Linked DNA regions of Homo sapiens. The protein of the gene in region 6 purifies or fractionates together with the protein of the main gene of each other region. This does not show direct contact. Each region holds a gene or a part of one and is shown on either strand. Other genes may lie near its edges. The genes, in order: BACE1, ITGB5, LRRC3, DPY19L4, PIGM, KLRC3 and TCTN2.

Region 1 (3,500 bases), on a different chromosome or scaffold from region 6:
CATCCGAGTGGTAGAGAAAGTGCCAGGCAGGGTGAATGTGGAACCTCTACAGCAAGTTCTAGAGAAGGGGTTTGTTCAAGCATCTCAGAAAAGCAGGTTGGTATTACACACCACTTCTGTGAAACGTGCTCAACATGTGGCAGCCCCACCTGTGTTTAATCACACCACTAACCAGGGCTTCTGTGTGTGGTGGGGGCAGTGATGGAACTGGAACGAGGAACTGGAGTGAATGCCCTTTCATCGATCCTACCTGCACCCTCCTCCCTGACTGCTTCTTTTAGATTGGGACATTAGAGGAAACAGGGAAGGTGCGTTTTGCAGCTGCCTACAAGTCCAAGGATAGGATTTAAGCCTCTACTCACGTTTGCACACACTGATGTCTCAGATATTGGTGTCCTCTCATCCCTTCTTCTTCCTGCTTTTATGCTAAGGGGGCTTCCAGATTACCCCTCACTGCCTCTTATCTTAAAGCCCACTTCAACCCCCCTTTCACCAGTCCCCCACTTTCACCAGTCCTCTTCAACCCCCCTTTCACCAGTAAGCTGAATCCAACTGGTGGCACCCTGGGTGGTGCATGGAGGAGATATTTCAGCTTTCAGTTCTGATACTGGTCTAGGCAGAGGGGTTTATGAAAGACCCTTTCCTTCATGTCCTTGGACTATGCAAAGCCACCTAGAGTGGCCCCTGGGTAAGAACACAGCAAGGGGAGCCGTCACTGAGGCCTGTTCAGCTTAGACTTAGCTGGTGTTAGAGAACTGAGAGACACCGAGGGGATGTGGGGTTTTCGTCTCCCCATTCAGGCAGAGAAAATGGGCCCCCTAAGATTGTTCTGTGAGCTATGGGCTCTTCTTCCTTTCCCTCCCACAGGAGGCTGCCCTGTCTCAGCACTGAAGCACTTCCTGGCTACCTCTCAATTCACCCTTTCCCATGGTATAGCTCCTCTCACCACCCACTTCACCCTGTCTCTCCTGGTCACTGTCTTTTTTTCGCCCTTCCCCTTCCCTGGCAAGAAGAAAATCTGAGGATCAACTCTTTCTCTCTGTACCCCTCCCCTGACCCTTCTTAGCCCTGGATCCTTGGAAAAGGTACTTCCCCCGGGCTCTCCCCAGGACTCACAGCTGCCTCTGGTAGTAGCGATGCAGGAAGGGGTGGGGGGCAGCACCCACTGCAAAGTTACTGCTGCCTGTATCCACCAGGATGTTGAGCTGTCAGAGAAAGGGGAGAGAAAAGACAGTATAGACAGGAGGCTTCGGTCACACCACCTTTATTATCCCTCACGCCCCAGCCACAGTCTGCCCCTTAGAATGTCCAGAGTGAAGCTCCACGATGCAGGACTGGTCCAGGCTGGCACCCGTTACCACCACGACCACAGACAGGACCTGGGGTCCTGTGGTGCTGCAGGGGCCAAAGGAACACTTCCCCTGTGCCCTCTGCAGGTCTGCTGAAAAACCAACTGAAAAAAGGCAGATTAGTAGAAGAACTAATATGCAAGGGAGTCAAAAAAATATAGGAAGTCAAAGAGATAGCCAGATGGTTGATGATTTTATACCATCTTGAGGTTACAGAAAGAATGGGAGCTTGGGCAAGGTGCAGTGGCTTACCCCTGTAATCCCAGCACTATGGGAGGCTGAGGCAGGTGGATCACCTGAGGTGAGGAGTTTGAGACCAGCCTGGCCAACAGGACGAAACTCTGTCTCTACTAAAAATACAAAAATTAGCTGGACATGGTGGCACATGCCTGTAGTCCCAGCTACTCAGGAGGCTGAGGCATGAGACTCACTTGACCCTGGGAGGTGGAGGTTGCAGTGAACTGAGACCATGCCACTGCACTCCAGCCTGGGCGACAGAGACCCTGTCTCAACAACAAAAAAAAAAGGGACTTGGACTTTGGCAAAAATAGTTATGGGAGGGATAAACGGAGGCCAGGCCAGTAAAAGTGGTCTTTTTATATGAATGAAACCTCATAGGTAACACCCCTCAGAGAAAACAGGTGATGTATGTGTCTTTCAGACCTTTAAACATGTCAGACTTTCAGTTAATCTTTCCTAGATTTGGACCAGGGAGGGCCTCAGAGAAAGCCAGGTTGCATCAATGCAGATTCTCTGCAGATGCAAATCTCCCTCAAAAGCCAGATTTGCAGGGCCACTTCTGTGTGCTGGCCCTCTGACAGCCGACTCAAAATACGTCAAAGTAGTATATTCTGGGGTAAAATATCTTGGTTTCCTTTGGCACCCTCAACATGGCCTTAGAAATGCTGTGTCTGAGGCCAGCACAGTGGCTCACAACTGTAATCCCAACACTTTGAGAGGCTAAGGCGGGTGGATCACTTGAGGTCAGGAGTTCAAGACCAGCCTGGTGAATGTAGTAAAATCCCATCTCTACTAAAAATACAAAGATTAGCCGGGTGTGGTGACGCACGCCTATAATCCCAGCTACTTGGGAGGCTGAGGCAGGAGAATCACTTGAACCCAGGAGGCGGAGGTTGCAGTGAGCCGAAATTACACCACTGCACTCCGGCCTGGACGAGAGCAACACTCCGTCTCAAAAAAAAAAAGAAAAGAAAAGAAACGCTGTGTCTGCTTCAGTCTATGGAGTCATAACATTTTGTGCGTCATCTCAGAGCTATGTGGTGTGTGTGCTGTCTCTGTTCCCATGTCTCTCTACCGTCACATCACCCCTGCTCACTGTGTACCTGACTGATTCTGTCTTCAGGGCCCCCTGCTCCTTTTCAATTCTCCCAGGAAGCAGTCTGGCTTATCCCCTCCAGCTCAGAGAAGACCTATTCTAGGAGCTGTACTGGTCAGGGGACCTGTGGGGACCAGGATGGCACATCAGTGTCCATGCGTGTGGTTCTGTCCCTGCCACCAGAATGTGGCTCCCCTTCTGTCTCACAGGTGACACAGACCTAGGAATCCTACTGTCAGAAATAGTGGGGAGCCAGGAGCCCCATAAAATGTCCTGGTGAAAACCCATCTTGTCAGGGCCCTGGATTTGGCTAAGTGAAGATGGACAGGTGTCTTGGTGTTCCCTTCTGTCCAGCTCTTTCTAGCATCACTTCTTTTTTTTGAGATGGAGTTTCGCTCTTGTTACCCAGGCTGGAGTGCAATGGCGCGATCTCGGCTCACTGCCATCTCCGCCTCCTGGGTTCAAGTGATTCTCCTGTCTCAGTCTCCTGAGTAGCTGGGATTACAAGTGTGCGCTACCACGCAGGGCTAATTTTTGTATTTTTAGTAGAGACGAGGTTTCACCACGTTGGCCAGGCTGGTCTCGAACTCCTGACCTCAGGTGATCCACCTGCCTCGGCCTCCCAAAGTGCTGAGGCGTGAGCTACCATGCCCGGCCTCTAGCATCACTTCTCCTTGGCCCTTTCTTCCTCCTTTGATGGCCTGACCCCACCTTCAGTCAGACCAGAGCCATTTTTTGAAAGTCTACTATATCCTCACAGGCAAAAAAAGGAAAGGCCCCACCCTCAGAAAAATGGTAATTTGTAAGTTGCATCT
Region 2 (3,500 bases), on a different chromosome or scaffold from region 6:
ATGGCACTGGCCTCCAGAACTTGCTGCTTACCTCTTAGGGCCCTGAAGCTTCTCAGGATTAGCAGAGGTTGACTCACATCTGTGTCATTTCTCCTAGTTTTTCAGTGTTGCTGAATTAACTTCAACATTCTTTTTTTTTTTCTTTTTTTTTTTTGCTTCCCTTCCCTTCTTTGTTTTCTTGAAGCACTACAGGTACTTTATTCAGGGAGTGTTTCTGTCTTGCCACTAGGAACATTATTTGAAAGAAAAAAACCTAGTTACTCAGAGAAAAGAAAGAGATGACCCTCAGGGCCATGCCTGCCTGGGTGTTCCTGGACCAGTGGTTGAGTGCCTCTCTCTGTTGCTCTAACCCCACTTTCATCTCAGTACGGATTTCCAGCAGGAAACTGACCTTAGGTTTCAGGGGCTCATTTCAAACAAGTCCCTGGCCGGCTGACAACCCCCTCCCGTCCCCACCAAGGGCTATCTCCTGCTCTTTTTATTATCTTATGGCCAAGAGCCTTCAGACAGAATCCTAGGATGTGGTCTTCCCACAAAACCAGGGGTCTCACTGAGGTGAGGCTTTTCCACGCTGCCTTTGCTAAGACAGAGAGAGGAACACCGTCTTATAAAGAGGATCCTGCAACACCGCTGGAATTATGTGTGCTATCACATTCATTTCTTTTTAAAAAAGCAATCGAATGTTCTTCTAGTGAATGCTCTGCACATCCTAAGAAAGCCCTTTGTTTTATTTAGTGGACTCATGTTGGCAGCACCCTTCCTCTACCCCCAACCCCCTACCACATTTCCTGTGGTCTGTGATGGGGTTGTTGGAATTTGGCTGGGTCTGCAGCTCTCTGTAGGTAACCAGGCACAGGTTTAGAGCTGACAGGACAATGAAATACAAACAGTGGGTTTGGTCTGTAGACTGCTGTTTATCCTATGGATTTACATTTTAACTCCATCATCCTTGAGTTGGGGGAGCTTTTTATAAAGGGGATTGAGGCAGAAGAGGGCAGGGTCTAATTAGCTCTAATTAGTATTCCCCGCCTGCTTGTTCTCCATGCTTATTTAGCTACTGAGGCAACGGGGAATTAAAATATCTAAGTAGTTTGGCAAAAGGCCTTTTGTGCCTGCGTGGCCTGGTAACTACTTTTTCTTATTCAGCCTGGCCATGGAAATATTCTGAGATGCTTTAACGATATCAGTAATGTGGGACAATTACAAACTACTTAAATAATAGGGCCCCTTTCACATGGCAGTGTGCAGCTGGGTTAATGGGATAGGGTCTCTTTTCACAGGTATTTCCAGTTGGCTGGAGCCGAGGGCCTTGGAGAACTGACTGCCGTGGTTTGTTTTCCTTCTTTCCGGTTCGAATGGGATTAATGGCCTCTATAAATGTAAAGGAATGCTTTATTTAGAGGCACCCATTTGTTTCTGAGGCTTCTTGCTTCCGTTGAATGCAGGGTTTACTTCCCGGGCCTCATGGTGAAAAGTTTGCTCTAAGACAGGCTTGACTCATCCCCTAAGGCTGATGCTTTGAAGGCACTGCGGGGTACCCTGCCCTCTCTTTATAGGATTCCCTCCCCAACTCCAGCCAGACATTTTCAGAGCTGGTTGTCTCTTGTAGAGCTGGGACCTACTTCTGCAACTTGTTCTCTTTAGTTATTCTCAACTGTCCCTCAGAGTGATCCTGAGATCCAACTCAAGTCAGATCATATCTCTCTGCTTAAAACCTTCGAATGGTTTCCCAGAGTCCTGCCAGGCTCCACGAACTCTCCACCTACTTCTCTGACTTTCCTTCACCACTTTCCCTTCGATCCTTTGCTCCAGCAGCATGGGCCTCCCACTGTCCCTTCAGCGTGCCAGCCATGCTCCCATGGCAGCCCTTCTCCCTGCCTGGAATACTGTCCTCCAAGATATCTGCATGACCGGCTTCCTCCACCCTGCAACCCTTTTTCTAGCATCTCCTGCTCAGCCAAGTTTTCCCTGGCCGCTCCCAGCTAAAGCTGCAACCTCCTCCCTATATCCCGAGTTCTTTTTATCTGCTTTTCTTCTTTAATTTTTGTCCTTAGCACTCACCACCATCTAATGTAACTACATATCTTCTTCACTATTTCCCCTAAGTAGAATTCTCCCCCAGCCAGGATGTGAGCTCCGTGAATAAGGGAGTCTTGTTGGTTTTATTCATCTCTGTATCCTCCATGCCTACAACAGCACCAGGCACATATTTGTTGAATGAATAATGGATGAACCTGAATCTTGGTAATTGGGAGGTGAAGAGGGCGATGCATCCCGTCCTCAACTCCCTGTTGCCTTCCACAGCTAGCTTTGAAGTCAGGGACTATGCATGCGGCTTGTTAGGAAGAAACATCCTGGGAGAAAGAGATTCTGTTGGAATGTGTCAGGATTTTTTTTTTAATTGGAGTCTCACTCTGTTGCCCAGGCTGGAGTGCAGTGGTGCAATCTCTGGTCACCGCAACCTCTGCCTCCCAGGTTCAAGCGATTCTCCTGCCTCAGCCTCCCGAGTAGCTGGGATTACAGGCGTACACCACCGCACCTGGCTTATTTTTTAATTTTTAGTAGAGATGGGGTTTCACCATGTTGGCCAGGCTGGTCTTGAACTCCTGACCTCAGGTGATCTGCCCACCTTGGCCTCCCAAAGTGCTGGGATTACAGGCATGAGCCACCACTCCTGGCTTTGTGTTAGGATTTTTTGAGCTGGTATGGAGGCCATTTGGTCTACTCCCTGAGTTGTTTGCATGAGGAAGCTGAGGCCTGGAAAGGTTAAGTGACTTGCCCTAGGTCACATAACCAATAAGTGACAGAACAAGTCCTCTGATCTTTTATACCCAGTATATCCTGTTCTCCTTCCCTACATCCCTGGGTGGAGCAGAACTATCTCCTCCTCCTCCTGCTTTCATGGCCCATTCCATTAGAGAGACTGGGGGCTGCAGCTGGTCTGTCTCACCTGCTACCTGGTTAATAGCCCTGGTCTTATTTACCTGTGTCCCTGACACAGCCACAATGCTTGGTACTCAGATGATCCCTTCTCTCACCCCAGGATTTTAATGGGCTTAGAAAAACTTTATTTAAAAGATTTGGCCAGGCAGGGTGGCTCACACCTATCATCCCAGCACTTTGGGAGGCCGAGGCAGGCAGATTACCTGAGGTCAGGAGTTCGAGACCACCCTGGCCAACATGGCAAAATCCAGTCTCTACTAAAAATACAAAAATTAGCCAGGCATGGTGGTGTGCACCTGTAATCCCAGCTACTCAGGAGGCTGAGGCAGGAGGATCGCTTGAACTTTGGAGGCCGAGGTTGCAGTGAGCTGAGATCACACCACCGTACTCTAGCCTGGGAGACAGAGACTCTGTCTCAAACAAACAAACAAACAAACAAACTTTTACATATGTACTTTTTCTTTTCTTTTTCCCTTTCTTTTTTATTTTATTTTGAGATGGAGTCTCACTCTGTTGCCCAGGCTGGAGTACAGTGGTGTGATCTTGACTCACTGCAA
Region 3 (3,278 bases), on a different chromosome or scaffold from region 6:
TCCCCTGGCAGGAGCACCACACCCTGCTATTGACCAAGAGCCTGCACGATGGTGGTCTCTGGAGACCCTCGCCCCAGCCTGGGAGGCAGCCACACAACAAGGCCCCCCGCAGTGTGGGCTGGAAGACACTGACAGCCTGCGGCGGCAGGAGCGAGGGTACCCAGCATGTTGACATTTGCCAGTTTCCTTGATGTAGAGACTGCTGCCAAGGTCACGTTCAGGCTACCATCATGTCACCTGGTGCAAAAATGCCTGAAACCTTAACAGTTGGCTGTCAGGAGCTACATTTAACCATCCGCGCTGTCATGAGCCTGCTGGGAGCCTGCACAAGCCGGCTCTGCACCCTCTGCGGGGCTCACGCAGGTTCAGCTCCTGCAGCCCTTCCGGGGCCACAGCTGTGGATCCACAGGTCCCTCAGCTCCATGGCACTGCAAGGTCTGGGGGAGGGGGAGGCTCGGGGTTTGGGCCGCAGAGTTGCCGACGACAGAATCCACACTTGCTGACTGAAGCACGAAGAGCTTTACTGAGGGCTCACAGAAGGGCCGAGAGACAACAGAAACAGACACCGGCACAGGCTGGGCCAGCAGCATGGCCCGCTCACACCTGCCTCTCCAGGTTACACAGTTCAGGATCCAAGTCCTGTGCAAATGCATCTGACTGGCGAACAGAAATCCCATCAAGAACAGCTGCAGGGAGACTGGGGTCACGGTTTTCAGCTCCTGGCCACTGCGGTCCAGGAAGGCCAGCCAGACCAGGCCTAAGCCAATCCCCCACATCCTCCATGAGGGGACCTGCCAAGAGCGTCCAGGACTCCGCGCCGCCCTCCGTGCTATGTGCTGTGGGGCCAGCTGCCTCCCAGCCATGGACCACACCTGCTCAGAGTTCCTTAGAAGCCGGGCTCCTTGCCTTGCTGCCTTGGCTCTGGTGACCTCTGCATTTTGCAGACACCCGGGAGGAGCTGCCCAAGACGGCAGCCCCACTCCAGACCCTGTCTGATGGGCCGTGCACGTCTGCACATTCCACAGAATGTGACCAGCTGTGGAGCTCAATACAAAATGGCCCTCTGCTGGCCGGGCCCTGACTTCAGCCTGGACACTCGTCCCCATGTCCTGCCCAGATGATCACTGGGCAGAGCCGGAGATTCCTGGCTGCTTTGGTTATGAAACACATGTCCAGGTTTAGCCCAACCTCATATGCAGTTTACACTCTCATCTACCCTCCCTGTAGGCAAGGCTGGGGGCCCCAGGCTCTGTGGCGGGAGGTGGTCCCCGGTTCCCCTCCTGCCAGCAGCCCCTGCAGAGGAGGCCGGGGGTCTCTCAGGGCCAGATTCCACTTCCCCAGGGCCCTTCATGAGAGGAGCCTCCTCACTCACCCACAGCTGCCAGCACAACCCACTCCCCACTGCCTGTCACGCAACCCCCGGCAGGCCCACGCCCCGCACCCATAGCCTCCAGCCAGCTCCTGTGGGGCCTGCGCCGTGAGTGGGCCTGGGAGTCTCCCTGGCCTCAGTGGCCTTCCTGCCCCAGGGGGCCCCACCCCACCAGGGATGGTCCTGTGGATCAGGATGGCTCTGCTGGTGGCTATACCAGCTCTGGGCCCATCCCCCACTGCTGGACCCCACCCCGCACAAGGAAGCCTCTGGGCAGGCATCTGGGGCTCCAAAGCCCAACAGGAAACCAGCAGGGAGAGGGCCCGGCCTGGGCTCCTCTCCTAGGGTTAGGAGTTAGCTTTAGAGTTGGAGTTAGGGCTGGGTTGGGTTAGGTTAAGGGTTAGTATCAGGGTTAGGGTGAGGATTGGGTCAGGGGTTAGCATCAGGGTTAGGGTGAGAGTTGAGTCAGGGGTTAGCATCAGGGTTAGGATTGGGTCGGGTCAGGGGTTAGCATTAGGGTTAGGGCGAGGATTGGGTTAGGGTGGGGGATGGTTTAGGGGTTAGCATTAGAGTTAGGGTTGGGTTGGGGTTCAGGCTCTGCCTCCCATGATGCCCAGGTAGGTTCCCGGGGTGAAAGTGGTGAATGGGCGGCATCAGGAAGCTAAGCCCTGCCCATCCAGTCTGGCTGGAAGATTCTGGCTCCCCGGTGGCCCAGGAGTCACAGAATACCCCCAATTTCCTATCCCCTCCCCCTGCCTTGTCTCGCAAGGCCGAGACCTCCACCATGTCCACACTGTGAACTGAGACATTCCCTTTGTCCCCGCCTCACCGCTATCAACACTGGTGGCCTGGCTGGTGTGGGGCTGAGCCCACGGCCTCTGCAGATGTGGGAAACTCTTGCAATCAGTGCAGCATGGAGGCAGAGGGGCTGATTTGGCCTGGGCATCCCAACGGGCAGCAGGTCCCAGGGTGCACATGCTCACATCTGGGCTGCAAAGAACTGAGTCACAGGGAGAGGCGGGGTGCTCTGGGGCAGGCAGCGATGTCATCTCAGGGGTGCTCCGCCACCCCTCCTTCCGCAAGTGTCCATCATGGGCTCCAGGCCCCGCCAGTAAAGAGGTCACAAGATGGGAGAGGAGGGGACGGCAGAGAAAGGAAGTGGAGGGAAGGGCAAGGGAGGGGAGGACATTAGAGGGCAGGAAGGGGAGGGCTGTACCCCGGGAGCGCTGAGGACTTGCAAGCACCCACGGTGGGAGCTCCAGTGAGCATGAAGGAGCTTTGGGGTCCCACAGTGTTGGGGTCTCTATGGTCTTCCTTAGAGGGGAGGTGCTTTCACCTATGTTGGTGGGGCAGGGGGCACAGTAAGGCCAGGACGGTGGGCAGCTCATGGACCTGACTGAGCTCACAGTGCAGGGGACAGGGCCTCCGGTGTCCTCCTGGTCCTCTCCCCATCTCCTCCTCCCAGCAGGAGGTGGACAGGGGCCCAGCAGACCTTCACCAAGGAGAAGGCCAGACCCTGGGCTGAGGCAGCCCAGCAAATTGGGGCAGGGAGGGACGGGCCTGCCCCTGCCCTGTGCACCTCCTGAAGGGCCACGTCTGGGTGATGTCCAGTGTCTGGGCTGATTCTAGGGTAAGGACAAATGAAGAGTCCCCTGGCAGCAGGGAAAGGGCACCCCAAAATGCGAGATGGGACTGGCTGGCACCCACAGGACACAGGGCTGAGGAGAGGCCCTGCCTTCACCACCCAGGCCTCAGTTCACACTCTCCTTGGGACCTGGGGTCATGCGTGCTGGGCAAACCCACCACAGGCACCCTGGCATGGAGAAGGGGTGGCAGGAGGACGCCAATCACCATGTGACCCTAGGCCTGCTGGCCAGGCCAGCAACAGTTCACCTGCCCTACCTGCATC
Region 4 (3,500 bases), on a different chromosome or scaffold from region 6:
TGAGTAGCTGGGACTATAAGCACCTGCCACCACATCTGGCTAATTTTTGTATTTTTAGAGGAGATGGGGTTTCACCATGTTGGCAAGGCTAGTCTTGATCTCCTGACCTCAAGTGATCCACCCGCCTCAGCCTCCCTAAGTGTTGGGATTACAGGCGTGAGCCACTGCACGCAGCCAAGAAAGCAATCCTTTTAGAAAGTCTATATTTTAAATAATACAATAATCATTTGTATTAAATACAACTTCATTCATTCATTTATTTTTGAGACAGGGTCTCTCTCTGTCACCCAGGCTGGAGTGTATGGCACAGTCAATAGCTCACTGCAGCCTCAGGCTTAAGTGATCCTCCTGCCTCAGCTTCCTGAGTAGCTGGGATTGCAGGCACACACCACCAAGCCTGGCTATTTTTTTTTTTTTTTTAAGTAGAGATGATGAGGTCTCACTATGTTGCCCAGACCGGTCTCAAACTCCAGGTCTCAAGTGATCCTCCTACCTGGGCCTCCCAAAGTGCTAGAATTATAGGTGTGAGCCACTACACCTGACCCCACTTCACTTTAAAATACAAGAATTGGCTAGACACAGTGGCTCACGCCTGTAATCCCAGCACTTTGGGAGGCCGAGGCGGGTGGATCACTTGAGGTCAGGAGTTCAAGAACAGCCTGGGCCAACATGGCAAAACCCCCACCTCTATTAAAAATACAAAAATTAGCTGGGTGTGGTGGTGGGCACCTGTAATCCCAGCTACTCAGGAGGCTGAGGCAGGAGACTCACTTGAATGCGGGAGGCAGAGGTTGCAGTGAGCCGAGATTGTGCCATTACACTCTAGCCTGGGCGACAAGAGCAAGACTACATCTCAAAAAATAAATAAATAAATAAAATAAAATAAAAGACTTTTGGTGGGGCATGGTGGCTCATGCCTGTAAGCTCAGCACTTTGGGAAGCCAAGGCAGGCGGGTCACCTGAGGTCAGGAGTTTGAGACCACCCTAGGCAACATGGTGAAACCACAACTCTACCAAAAAATATAAAAATCAGCCAGGCATTGGCCGGGCGCGGTGGCTCACACCTATAATCCCAGCACTTTGGGAGGCTGAGGTGGGTGGATCACTTGAGGTCAATTCAAGACCAGCCTGGCCAATATGGTGAAACCCCATCTCTACTAAAAATACAAAAAAATTAGCTGGGCATTGTGGCATGTGCCTGTAATCCCAGCTACTCGGGAGGCTGAGGCAAGAAAATTGCTTGAACCTGGGAGGCAGAGGTTGCAGTGAGCCAAGATCGCGCCACTGCACTCCAGCCTGGGCAACAGAGAAAGACTCCATCTCAAAAAAAAAAAAAAAAATTAGCCAGGCATGGTGGCATGTGCCTGTGGTCCCAGCTACTGGGGAGGCTGAGGTGGGAGAATCACTTGCATCCATGAGCCAGAGGTTACAGTGAGCCAAGATCGTGCCATTGCACTCCAGCCTAAGCAACAGAGTAAGACTCTGTCTCAAAAAGAAAGTAAAAAAAAAAAATAAGTAAAATATAAGACTTTCTTTTTTTTTGAGACGGAGTCTCGCTCTGTCGCCCAGGCTGGAGTGCAGTGGCGAGATCTCAGCTCGCTGCAAGCTCTGCCTCCTGGGTTCACGCCATTCTCCTGCCTCAGCCTCCCGAGTAGCTGGGACTACAGGCGCCCGCCACCACACTTGGCTAATTTTTTGTATTTTTAGTAGAGATGGCGTTTCACCGTGTTAGCCAGGATGGTCTCTATCTCCTGACTTCGTGATCCACCTGCCTCAGCCTCCCAAAGTGCTGGGATTACAGGCGTGAGCCACCGCACCCGGCCATAAAATATAAGATTTTCTAAACCTAGTCTATGAGTATTATTATAACTTTCTGTCTTTCTAAAAATAAATCCTAATAGAATTTTAGAAAAGTACACAGCAACTCAAAATGTCCTGTAACAGGCACTTTCTGACATAACAAAAAATCATCTTGTCCTCCTAGTTGCCAGACTGGATTTTCTAATTCCATTCTATACTAAAAGGAACCAAAGCGCCAATGAGAAATGGCTATTTACAAATCTTCTGCAGCAAAAGTGCAAACCTACTCACCTTGTTGAGCCAGAAAACAAGAAAGCTTTCAAAGATTAACAAAGTTGTGTCAAAAGAACTCAGGAGCCGGCCTGAAAGGTACTCCTATTAACCAAGGGTGTGACAATTTGAGCAACAGAAGAACATTGATCAAAATGTTCTGAATCAATGAAATCAATTAAAATGAATCACTGAATCAATAAAAATCCATAAGTACAGAAAGATGCTTAGAAAAGAGAACACCAGAATCAAAGGTTTTTGTCACTGAGAAAGCTATTAAATTAATCTCTTATTTAGAAATTGGTAAATTGAAATTAAGCATTTGTCTTCACTTTCTAATAGTGACTTGAAGGTAACCAAAAAGCCCTGGTTAATGAGGAAAAATTCTACTTTTGAAGAATGAAGAATGTAGCTAATGAAAATAGAAAAATATAATTTTATAAAACCTAATAAAATTACTACTTTAAGGCAAAGGTTACAAACTGGTGTTACAACTGTTAGGTAAATGCTTAATGGTAAAAAGGACATTCATTTGGTGCTAAAAAACGCCACACAGATTATTCTCCAGTTATTAGAGAAAAACATAACTATTCAATGGAGAGATCTGACTGCCATTCCCCCAAACCAGTAGTCAATCTCAGCTTCACTAGGGGTTGATCAATTAACTATAATTTCTACTGTCATGGAACATGAAAAATATATAATCTACCATATATTTCAACCAGAACTGTTTATTTTGAACCCATCAAGCCTTTACACATAACTTTCAGATTACAGAAACACAGGAGATAAAGGTAAAAGCTAAATGACACCACAGGATGCAACAAGACTTAGTCTCTTCAACATAAAAAGGGGGACTATGTTAGATTTACAGAGTATTAAGGAACATAACAACCAGATGCACTATGGAGTCCTGGATTAAATCCTGATTTGGATAAATCAGCTATATAGAGTATTTTAGGGTCAACCAGGGAAACTGTAATAAGGTCTGGGTATTAGATAAGATAAAAAGTTATAGAAATGGAAAGGCAGTGACAGTTGAATAGAGAAAGCAGCATAAAAAAAACAGTATTGCAGCCGGGCGCAGTGGCTCACACCTGTAATCCCAACACTTTGGGAGGCCAAGGTGGGTGGATCACGAGGTCAGGAGATTGAGACCATCCTGACCAAGATAGTGAAACTCTGTCTCTACTAAAAATACAAAAAAATTAGCCGGGTTTGGTGGCGGGCGCCTGTAGTCCCAGCTACTCCCGAGGCTGAGGCAGGAGAATGGTGTGAACCTGGGAGGTGGAGCTTGCAGTGAGCCGAGATCGCACCACTGCACTCCAGCCTAGGTGACAGGGCAAGACTCCGTCTCAAAAAAATGAAAAACAAAAACAAAACCAAAACAAAACCAAAACAGTATTGTAAATAGACCTGATTTTGGTAAA
Region 5 (4,015 bases), on a different chromosome or scaffold from region 6:
ACACAGGGCCTGGATCTATAAATAACTGCCAAAAAAAATGAAGAGCAAAGGTTATACATTTCCTTTGTAAAAAGAACTGAGCTTCAAATATTCATGCTCCAAATTATTTTTAAATAGTCACTGTAAGTGTCATTTCACTTTGTCTAGCAGACATAGCAATTAGCAGAGTGCCTGAGCAGCTATAAATGTTCTCATTTAGTCTGGTTTTTGTTCAGGATAATGAATATAAATGCTTGTTTTGACTAAATGAATGGTTCTCCTAGGCCAGTGCTGAATAAATGCTTGTGCTATTGTGACGCTTCTGACCCAGGCAGGAGACATGTGCTTCCATCTCCAGAACAGCAACCCCTGAATGACCCCTCGATACAATGGAGAAAAGAAGTGCTGTGTAATTTAGGGGCATAAACCAAACCTCCACTGCTTAGAGTCAGCTTAATGTCTGACAGAAATATACAAAACTGTAAAGCCTCAACCAGACATCTGAATAATCTGTCCATACATTTTTCACATATCAGTATTTATTATCTTTTCAAAGGAACAGGTCAAGATGAGAATAAAGTTTATGATCAAAGGTAGTCAAACATTTATTTTATATAAATATAATTTCCTTGCCTATATCCATTAGATTTGGGGAAAAAAGGTTCAAGTTTACAGTGCCAGAACAGCTCCTTCTTTAAAGGCTTGTAAACAGTGACTTGTTCTATGCCAGCATGCACACTTTGAGCATATCAACTCACTTAATCCTTACCAACAATTCTATGAAGATTGTGCTATCATTCCCATTTCACAGATAAAAACTAATGTATCTAGATATGATAATCTTGCTCAGGATCATGCACTGGGATTTGAACCTAAGTGATCTATTCTCTGATGCCGTACTATCAATGCAGTACAATTTTTAACTGCATGAATGCACACTGCAGAGCAACAGCAATTGAACAATGATCATTTGCCTTTTGGAAATTATGGCCACATACTTTGTGTAGCTTGATTTACAAATAGCTTGGCTAAAAAGCAGTTCAGCAAATCAACTTCTTAAAATAGGCTATGAAGGAAAAGTGCATGATGAAGCCAGCAGTAAACAAAGAAATTACACAATTTGGTGAGAGAGGGTTTGGAGGTGGAGGGGAGTTGTTAAAGGCCTGGAATCATTGAAAAGTTTGGGGATGACAGTGACTTGGTACAACTGAGAGAACTGCCCCTCAAAAGATTAGAAGGACAATTGATTGGCAAGAGACACTTGACAGAGCCAGTATTGAGTTCCATTTATTTTGGAGCAGTATGCATCTGCTGGGTTTGGGTACTCTGGAAAAATCCAAAACATAATATAATGGAAAAAGCATGGGTAAAAATCACTTATTAGCAAGTTGTTTAATCTTTGAGCCTCTTCGTTCATCTATAAATTTAGAATATGAATATCAACTTTGAAGTGTTGCTGTGAAAATTAAATAAAACCATATATGGCGGAATAGGTGCCCAAAATTGGTTAATCATGAAAAATTTACCATCATCAAGATGTAAAATAATTAGCTGTTGTTGTTGGGGCAGGGCTTGGAGTTGGGGGTTGGATATTAAGATTCCAAACCTGTATAATCTTTTATCTGGAAAACCTACCAGATAAAACAAAGAGATTACCACCCCCATGTTTTTAGGGAGAGAGACAGAAAGTATGACACACAAAAGAATTAATTTGTTCAACTTTGATGGAAGGTAAACCCCTTTAGTTCTCACTTTGTTTTTAAGACTAGGAAAAGATTCAAACTTCTTAATTATGGATTATCCACCATGTTCTTTCCTTCCTCGGAATCTTTGAGATCCAAGAACGTCTGTTCTTTAAGATGTAACAAAAAACACCTGAAGAAATTTGAAAATGACAGAATGTTAAATCATAATAGATAGCAGAATTATGGTTTTGTAAGAAAATACCTGATTTTTAGGAGATGCATGCTGATATATTTAGTGGTGAAGTTCAATGATGTTTGCAACTTCACATGGTTCAAAAAATTTTATAAATATATAATTATACATATACATAAAGCAAATATGGCAAATTGTTGTTGAATTTAGATGATGGCAATATGAGTAGTGTTTAAAATAGTTAGGTCAGGCGGGGTGCAGTGGCTCACGCCTGGAATCCCAACACTTTGGGAAGCCAATGAGGGAAGATCACTTAAGTGATCTCCCTCTTGCAACATAGCAAGACCTCGTCTCTACAAAAAATAAAGATTAGCCAGGCATGGTGGCAAATACCTGTGGTCCCAGCTACTTGGGAGGCTGAGGAGGAAGGATCACTTGAGCCTGGGAGTTCGGCTGCAGTGAGCCATGTTTATACTACTGCACTCCAGCCTGGGTGACAAAGCAACATCTTGTCTCAGAAAAATAAAAAAATAAAATAGTTGGAGCTGTTTGTTTTAGAGGCAAGGTGTTGCTCTGTCACCCAGGCTGGAGTGCAGTGGCACAATCATAGTTCACTATAACCTCCTCGAATTCCTGGGCTCAAGTGGTCCTCCCACTTCAGCTTCCCAAGTAGCACTTTTTTTTTTGTACAGATGGGGGTCTCACTATGTTGTCCAGGCTGGTCTCAAACTCCTGTCCTCAAGTGATCCTCCTGCCTCAGCTTCCCAAAGCATTGGGATTATAGGCATGAACCACCATGCCCAGCTCTTAAAATCGTTTATAATAAAACATGAGGGGTGGGGGGAACCAAGAGGTTGCATTTAGGGACAATCCTAGGTATAATTTTTCCATCTTTTTCCTTTTCCATTCATAGTACAGATGGTTAGGGGAGAGGGTGGTAATGCAGAAAACAACTGATATTAGAGAAGTAACAGTAAATTCAGCCACAAGTCAACTGAAAGACAAGTTCTACACAACTTCTGAAACATCTTGTAAGAGTCCAGATGGTGAGAAGTCAGTAACTAAAATCAGTGGTTTTAGGAATTCTTTTGCCAGGAAGGAACAAAGCACTGGGTGGGAGTATTAGCCTTTCCAATGGGCCTATCAAGAGAATTTATCCAGGAATATTTAGGAACCACATTCTAAAGACGTTACAAAGGCAATTACAGAAGAAAATGTCATGTAGTTCCCTCTGTTCAGAACACACACAATCTTGAGAATCATCCCTCTTTATCTAATAATTAATGCTTACCTGCAAATGAACATATCAATCTTAAGAGGTGGTATAAGAAAAAAAGAATTATATAGGAAATAAGCCAAAGTCTTATAAAATTTGAAGGTGTTATTAAAGGATTAAAAAGGAAACAAAAGGATTGTGATAAGAAGCAAAAAAAAAACATTTTTTTTACATAACCAGAAAACAAATTAAAAAATTAAAATCCCCCAAGAAACCAAATTAACTCATTTTTTTAGTTAACTTACTAAATGTTTTGGAACATACAAAGTGCAAAATATCTTTTGCATCCCTTTAAGAAACACCTGCCTTTCTTTGGTAAAGAATTTCTTGCAGGAAAGATTCCAAAGTTTGAAGTTCCCTCCAACGATCCCAGCAGAAATGTTTCTAACTTCTAAGAATGTCCTAAGAGAATGAGCTAAAACACAGAAAATGTTGAAAGTCTTATTTAGAATATTAAAAACTGGAAGCAATCTAAAGGTCTAACAGTGGAAGAATGATGTATTTATAATGTGAATATACATGTGATGTCCAACAATTTCAATTCTAAGTATGAAGAGTAAGCCACAATAAAGAATGTTAAAAAACAATAATTAGTAAGTAAATATAATTATAAAACCAAGTCAGAAATACAAAAAAAGGGACAACTATACTGGAATGATGAAATTCGATTTCTGTTTCCTGCCTCCTCCCTTGCTGGCTCTATAATTTTTTTTTTTAATTCTTAGAATAGGAAAAAAAGGTAAGAATGCTATGGCTGGAAGGCCACTAGTAAACAAGCACATATAAAGGGTCCTCAAGACAAGACCTAATATGGGTATGAAACTAAATGTTATAAGGAAGGTCATTGTCCTCAGCAACTGACTCTGCTATTTTTACCCCAAA
Region 6 (4,069 bases):
CTCAATCACACACCTAGATTTCATGAAAGCAGTTTTAATTTTTAATAAAAGTAAGGATGAAATCATTTCCATAAAATGCAAATCTGACCTTAATTATAAACAATTGGAAGACTTAAAACAATTGAACCAAACATTGCAAAAAAGATGTACCACACTGACATGAGACGCCTAATTAATGAGTTATTTTAACACACTCTAATGCAAATCAGAAATAATAAAATGGCAATTGTGTTAAAAATAGTTGAAATATCTATTATGTATTCAGTGCTAATATGTGCCAGGTTGTGTGTTTAGTTTTCTACATACATTATACTTTATAAATTATTTTTCCCAATGTAGATTAGTAAACTAGGTTAGTAGACACTAAGTAATTTAGTACAGGTCACATATTACAACTTGCAAAGCTAGAATTAATTGTAGTCTCACTGACTACAGAGCTCATTGACTAGATTATTAAATTACATTATCTGAACTATTACAATTACTTATACAACCAAAGCGACCCTCACTGACTTATACAATCATAGGAGCTTTCTGAAAGTTTGATTGGACACTATTCTTCCATAGACGGCCCACACGTTTATTTATCATTTTAAGTTTTCCTATTTTAGTCATTAAATCAATTACCAATTTCTTGTGTAAAAGCAGCAATTTAAAAATATATTATGTTTTCAATAGTATTTATGCATACAGTAATGTAATGTTTTACAAGATATATTTTTAAAATTTTAATGATTTTTCTGATTTCCTAATTTAGAAAAATAATCAGTTGACAATACCTCAGGTCCTTTTAATAAATGAATGTAACTCACTAACAATGTATGTTAGTATAAGAAGTTACTCTGTATGCTGACAGAACTATTTTATCTTATGGCACACAATCATTAACCATCAATGACTCTTAAAACTATGGTAAAATTAGTGTATTTCTAAATACAGTATTTTAATTGTTAAAGTATGCAGTCTATTGGTGTTAAACATTTTTGAAGAATCTAACCTTAATTTAATACCAATTTTTTTCATGAACTTCCTAGTTCTCACAAGTTTAATGTTTTTATTGTTCCCACTAGTAATATTATGTCAAATACAGAATACATCTAAAAAATGGCCAATTATATCGTGTGATTTTTGTTTAAAGCTTTAGGAAATTAGTAGCAGAATTTTACCTAGGTTAACAGCAAAGTAAACATTATTACTCAGCCCCAACACATGCACATTGCCTATACCAGGGATCCTGTCAAAATATACACCATTTATAGCTTCTTAAGTGCAGTTATCATAGAGCACAGTCCCTCACATCACACAGCTGCAGAGATGAGTAAACAAAGAGGAACCTTCTCAGAAGTGAGTCTGGCCCAGGACCCAAAGTGGCAGCAAAGGAAACCTAAAGGCAATAAAAGCTCCATTTCAGGAACCGAACAGGAAATATTCCAAGTAGAATTAAACCTTCAAAATGCTTCTCTGAATCATCAAGGGATTGATAAAATATATGACTGCCAAGGTAAAACATTAAATATATCTTCAATGTTATTGTTCTGGGATGTGCAGTTGAATGCAGAAGGGTGAGGAAAGATTAGGGAATATTTTACACTTGTGAGAATCAGAGTTCATAAATGGGATCTAATATTCTAATATGAAATCAGAAGACTAATTTTATTCAGGCATTGTTCAACTGTAATCAACTGTAATCTGCAATCCACTCATGGAACATTACATTTACTGAAAATGAAATGGTATATTCTGAGAGAAAGATTACTAGAGTAGATGTAGATTTAGCGGCCAGAGTTTATCATTATGTTTCCCTGTGCATGTGGGTTCTCTAGTATGTAATTCTCTAGTATGTAATCCTAATCAACTCTCTATCTCCCCTCTCTCAGTGCCTCTATTTCTCTCCCTGCAGGTTTACTGCCACCTCCAGAAAAGCTCACTGCCGAGGTCCTAGGAATCATTTGCATTGTCCTGATGGCCACTGTGTTAAAAACAATAGTTCTTATTCCTTGTAAGCATATTCTTGAAAGATTAGAAGGGAACGTTTTACTTTAATGCTTGGAAGTGCCTCAAAATATTTCATACTGTTGAAGAATAGAACTCTTATTTTACTGTTTCTTTCAAAGATCTATTACTTCATTTATTTTTATAGAAAAAGTTAATTTTATTAAAGATTGTCCCCATTTTAAATAACACACAAAGTTTCAAAGTAAGAAACTAAACTCATTATGGTTTATCTAAATATTACTTTTTATAAAAATCATTTTAATTTTTCTATTACAGTCCTGGAGCAGAACAATTCTTCCCCAAATACAAGAACCCAGAAAAGTACATTTTTATTTTCAAAGTTCTGATATTAGTACAATTTGGAACCAAAATAATATGGTTATTCTGAATTTTTCACAACATAAATAACAAAATCATTGTAGAGAACATGTGTTTATTTTTTGTGTGTAATCTATATATATGTATATACATACACACACAAAGATATTTTCTGATTTCATAATTCAAAGGCATGCTATAGAAGAAAAGTATTTAGAAAAACTAATTTTTGAAAGTGGTTACATCAAATACTACAAGAGATGGTGAAGTTTTGTGCTAAAGTCTTTAAAAATGTTTATTTCAAAGGTCTATTACTTTATATATTTTTATAGAAAAAGTTAATTTTATTAAAGATTCTCCCCATTTTAAATAACACACAAAGTTTCAAAGTAAGAAACTAAACTCATTATGGTTTATCTAGATATCAGTTTTTATAAAAATCATTTTAATTTTTCTATTACAGTCCTGGAGCAGAACAATTCTTCCCCGAATGCAAGAACCCAGAAAGGTACATTTTTATTTTCAATGCTCTGATATTAGTACAATTTATATTTTGTGTCTGTTTTAAGGCATGTAAAAGAATAGTGGCATTTTTGCAGAAAATAAGCCATAAATTCAGCCATAAATATTTATAAAGAAAGATTATGAGGCAGCATTTCCTTTTCTCCAGTAAGTAGAAATACTCACTTAAAATCATTCTACCCTCTTTCTCCCAATTAACAGAAGTCTCCTACTGCTGTGAGATGATACCAAATAAATAATTTTACTATTCTAAAAAAGCAGTTGTGTATCAGTGAGGTTCAAGACATGTGTGGAGTGTATTTTTGTTTGTTGGTTTGCTTTATATGGGAACACAATTAGGGGAGAGAGGCTAACCCTTTTCTGTGTATGTGTGTATGACTGACTCAGTTATTAAAAAATATATACTTATAAGCCTGTAAGGATGCATAAATATGTTAAGCACATATATGTTTATACTGTTGCAAATATGTGAACTAATTTTCATTTTTAAAAATTCATATTGGTCTAGATAGTAATTCATATCTTTATTAGCACGTCATTGTGGCCATTGTCCTGAGGAGTGGATTACATATTCCAACAGTTGTTATTACATTGGTAAGGAAAGAAGAACTTGGGAAGAGAGTTTGCAGGCCTGTGCTTCAAAGAACTCTTCTAGTCTGCTTTGTATAGATAATGAAGAAGAAATGGTAAGATGTAAATGTTTCAAACATTTTATGAAAAGCTTCTTTCAGTGAATAATACATTTGTAGAAAACATCCATATGTGTGTACATATATTTAGCTTATATATTTTCAAGTGTATGCATTATTCAGTTGATTGACTTAATAATGTTTTTAAAGTTATATACCGCTAATGTACTTTTATTTTCAGTTTTTGCTTTTTATGGAAAACCATGCTTCTATTAATGCTTTGAATCCACAATAAATTTTACTATTTAATTTTATTGAGCATGATATGATCTAGTCATGCAGATTGATCACAAAGTGAATGATCTCATGTGATACAAGTGAGATCATGAAATAAGTTTCCAGCTCTAGCAGTTCCACCCCTGTGTATGCCCTCATCACTTATCCTGACTCCTCTCCAAAACACTGTCTTGACTTTTGAAGTTATAAATAAGGTTTGCCTGTTCTTGAATTTATAAAAAACGGAATTATACAGTGTGAATTTCATGTCTGTCTTTTTCACTCCTATCTGATATTTGTGGAATTCCTCCATATTATTGCGGTTATCT
Region 7 (3,500 bases), about 110 Mb from region 6:
CAAAAAATACGAAAAATCAGCCAGGCACACACCTGTACTCCAAGATACTCGGGAGGGTGAAGTGGGAGGATCACCTGAGCTCAAGAGGGTCAGGCTGCAACGAGCCGTGATCACACCACTGCGCTCCAGTCTGGGTGATGGAGTGAGACCTTGTCTCAAAAAACAAGCCAAAAAGAACGCATGCAATCAAAACCACAATGAGATACCACTTAGTATCTATTAGGATGGCTACTGTCAAAAAAAAAAACAAAAACAAAAAAACAAAAAACAAGGCTGGGCACAGTGGCTCACACCTGTAATCCCAGCACTTTAGGAGGCTGAGGAGGGCAGATCACCTGAGGTCAGGAGTTCAAGACCAGCCTGACTAACATGGAGAAACCCCATCTCTACTAAAAATACAAAATTAGCCAGGTGAGGTGGCACATGCCTGTAATCCCAGCTACTCAGGAGGCTGAGGCAGGAGAATCACTTGAACCTGGGAGGCAGAGGCTGCAGTGAGCTGAGATTATGCCATTGCACTCCAGCCTGGGCAACAAGAGTGAAACTCTGTCTCAAAACAAAAACAAAAACAAAAACAGAACATAGGCCAGCAGAGTGACTCATGCCTGTAATCCCAGCACTTTAGGAAGCCAAGGCAGGTGGAGGACCACCTGAGCCTGGGGAGGTTGGGGCTGCAGTAAGCCATGATTGCACCACTGCACCCGAGCCTGGGAAACACAGTGAGACCCTGTCTCAAAAAAAAAAAAAAAAAAGTTAATCACCCCAGTTACACTTTGCTCTGGCCTTTTTCATAGCTCTAGGAGTATAAGGTTCCAATGAGGCCAGGCGCGGTGGCTTACGCCTATAATCCCAGCACTTTGGGAGGCCAAGGTGGGCAAGGTCACTTGAGGTTAGGAGTTTGAGACCAACATTGTGAAACCCCATCTCTACTAAAAATACAAAAAAAATCAGCAGGCGTGGTGGTGCATGCCTGTAATCCCAGCTGCTAGGGAGGCTAAGGCAGGAGAATTGCTTGAACCGGAGAGGCAGAAGCTGCAATGAGCCGAGATCGCACCACTGCACTCCAGCCTAGGTGACAAAGTGAGACTTCATCTCAACAAAAAAAACCACACAACAACAACAAAAAAGGTTCCAATGAGCTGAACAAACTTTGGCAGAGACATTTGTTTAAATGTGGATGAAATTTGCTTAAATGTGGATGAACTGGCTTTAGTCCCAAGAAAAAGTTTATTTTCCCTCATATTGATGTTTGAATCAACTCTAAATTGTATTACATGTCTGTATTTATTATCACTTTTACACATTTTAATTGACTCTAATTTTTCATATTCATGCTGTCTTTGATATTCATGTAGTGAATTAATTCTAGGCAAACCATTCACATTGCCGATATATTCATCAATGAAACACTCACCTGAGCTGAGTACAATTTTCATTAATCCCGACTTCTAACAGGCATCCAGAGAGTACATTTTCTCCAAATAAAATGGGTTTGAAAGTTGCTGATGTACACAGACCCCTTCCAGCTATAAAAGAAAAAGATTATCCTCTTGCTACTTTTTGCTAAACAAAAGTAAAGATTAACTTCAGTTTTCCGTGAAAAACAGAAAACAGTAAGTAGAAATAAAGTTGCCAGTTTTCAAAAACTGAGATCACTGTTAGTCTAATCCTTTCAAAGCTGAACAAAGGTGCCTTTATCAGACTTCTCAGATCCTGAGCGGTGGTTTCTTCAGAAGTGACACTGCCTCTGGCAGGTGTGCGTAATTACCACTGAAGCACAGATTTCCTGCAGTTCAGAACGAAGTTATTTTCATGTCTCCAATTAGCACCATCCTGGGCTACAGGCAACAATAACATGGGACTCTCAAGCCAATCTCATATTTCAATCTTTTCTACTAGCAACCAGCACTTCAGGTGCAAACAATGTTAGCATTCCTTTTTAAAAAGCTGTAGAAGCAGGAAAAACCATCATCACTGTTATTCAGCAGCATGTACCTCTCTGCTAAATAAACCAACTAGGCTTTAAAATAATTGATTGCTTGATTAGATTCAAAATATGGTAATACTTCTAACACCAATTTGCCAAAGGGCTAATCATAATGACCAAACCGGATTACCCGATTGCCAAAGATGTAAAGTCGTGACATTATTCATCCTGTTGATATTTAGAGCTCGGACAGGCTTGCCAAGTTGGTAACCTAGACAAACACAACAAAGGAACGTGAGCCTGTTTCCTCCAGCATAGCAAGCCCTAACTCTGCAAATAATACAAGAGTCATGCACAAGGAAAGAAAACACATAGGCGAAGCTTTCGAAAATACCCTTGAGAGAAAGATGGCAACTTCGGGTCTCAAAAAAAACAGTAGCTAAAGAGAAAGAATGCTTCACATTTACAGCAACTTGTTACTATGTACAACAGACTATGTAAAAAAAAAAAATACATTGTTATCACAAAAAGAATACCATGTCGGCCAGGCGTAGTGGCTCACGCCTGTAATCCTAGCACTTTGGGAGGCCGAGGTGGGTGGATCACCTGAGGTCAGGAGTTCGAGACCAGTATGGCCAATATGGCAAAACCTCATCTCTACTAAAAGTACAAAAATTTGCTGAGGGTGTTGGTGGGCACCTGTAATCCCAGCTACTTGGGAGGCTGAGGCAGGAGAATTGCTTGAACCTGGAAGGTGGAGGTTGCAGTGAGCCCAAATCGTGCCATTGCACTCCAGCCTGGGTGACAAGAGTTAAACTCCGTCTCAAAAAAAAAAAAAATGAATACAGTGCCACAACAGAGAATAAAGAGGCTGGGGCAGTGGCTCATGCCTGTAATCACAACACTTTGGGAGGCTAAGGCCAGGGGATCACTTGAGGTCAGGAATTCAAGACCAGCCTGGCCAACACGGTGAACAACAGCCTATCTCTACTAAAAATATAAAAATTATATTAAAGTGAGCAACCCTGCAAGCCTCTCTTTGGAGAAGTAGCAGATGAATAAAACTTCCTGTGTTGTGTGATTAAAAAAAAAAAAAAAAAGCCAGGCATGGTGGTGTGCACCTGTAATCCCAGCTACTCAGGAGGCTGAGGCAAGAAAATCTCTTGAACCCAGGAGGTGCAGGTTGCAGTGAGCCGAGATTGCGCCACTGCACTCCAGACTAGGCAACAGAGCAAGACTCCGTCTCAAAAAAAGAAAAAGAGAAAATAAAGAAAAAGGTCAGAGTCAGAAACTAAATTGGAGAGAGTTACTTATAACCATCCTGATGGCTGGGAGTGTTGAACTAAAGTATGTTTGTAAGATCAATGACTGGCATATACTCATCTTACCTGGATTTCCAGATAATTCTTCTTCATTACCACTATTATAGCTTAAAAATTTTACTACAAATCTCTGTGTCATTATCCCTAGAAATAAAACAAAATAAAATATAATGTGCACCATTTCACTAGGAAAAGAAATTATTCTCCATAGTGTTTACCTTAAAATTGCATTTTGTCATACAAAGTGTACT

Evidence for each region.
Region 1: the proteins of KLRC3 (region 6) and BACE1 purify together in Homo sapiens (affinity purification with mass spectrometry; one large-scale study listed by BioGRID and IntAct). This does not show direct contact.
Region 2: the proteins of KLRC3 (region 6) and ITGB5 purify together in Homo sapiens (affinity purification with mass spectrometry; one large-scale study listed by BioGRID and IntAct). This does not show direct contact.
Region 3: the proteins of KLRC3 (region 6) and LRRC3 purify together in Homo sapiens (affinity purification with mass spectrometry; one large-scale study listed by BioGRID and IntAct). This does not show direct contact.
Region 4: the proteins of KLRC3 (region 6) and DPY19L4 purify together in Homo sapiens (affinity purification with mass spectrometry; one large-scale study listed by BioGRID and IntAct). This does not show direct contact.
Region 5: the proteins of KLRC3 (region 6) and PIGM purify together in Homo sapiens (affinity purification with mass spectrometry; one large-scale study listed by BioGRID and IntAct). This does not show direct contact.
Region 7: the proteins of KLRC3 (region 6) and TCTN2 purify together in Homo sapiens (affinity purification with mass spectrometry; one large-scale study listed by BioGRID and IntAct). This does not show direct contact.

Annotation. Positions count from the first base shown.
Region 1 is NC_000011.10:117,295,757-117,299,256, forward strand, and holds part of BACE1 (beta-secretase 1 isoform A preproprotein), read right to left. Parts: intron 1,206-3,500; coding exon 1,117-1,205; intron 1-1,116. UniProt on the Homo sapiens protein: Responsible for the proteolytic processing of the amyloid precursor protein (APP).
Region 2 is NC_000003.12:124,880,866-124,884,365, reverse strand, and holds part of ITGB5 (integrin beta-5 isoform a precursor), read left to right. Parts: intron 1-2,505; exon of another isoform or gene 2,506-2,523; intron 2,524-3,500.
Region 3 is NC_000021.9:44,459,419-44,462,696, reverse strand, and holds the end of LRRC3 (leucine-rich repeat-containing protein 3 precursor), read right to left. Parts: 3' UTR 501-3,278; downstream 1-500.
Region 4 is NC_000008.11:94,740,400-94,743,899, reverse strand, and holds part of DPY19L4 (probable C-mannosyltransferase DPY19L4), read right to left. Parts: intron 1-3,500. UniProt on the Homo sapiens protein: Probable C-mannosyltransferase that mediates C-mannosylation of tryptophan residues on target proteins.
Region 5 is NC_000001.11:160,024,453-160,028,467, forward strand, and holds the end of PIGM (GPI alpha-1,4-mannosyltransferase I, catalytic subunit), read right to left. Parts: 3' UTR 501-4,015; downstream 1-500.
Region 6 is NC_000012.12:10,417,796-10,421,864, reverse strand, and holds the start of KLRC3 (NKG2-E type II integral membrane protein), read left to right. Parts: upstream 1-1,269; 5' UTR 1,270-1,314; coding exon 1,315-1,501; intron 1,502-1,900; coding exon 1,901-1,999; intron 2,000-2,776; coding exon 2,777-2,821; intron 2,822-3,366; coding exon 3,367-3,521; intron 3,522-4,069. UniProt on the Homo sapiens protein: Plays a role as a receptor for the recognition of MHC class I HLA-E molecules by NK cells and some cytotoxic T-cells.
Region 7 is NC_000012.12:123,695,113-123,698,612, reverse strand, and holds part of TCTN2 (tectonic-2 isoform 1 precursor), read right to left. Parts: intron 3,394-3,500; coding exon 3,316-3,393; intron 2,199-3,315; coding exon 2,118-2,198; intron 1,527-2,117; coding exon 1,415-1,526; intron 1-1,414.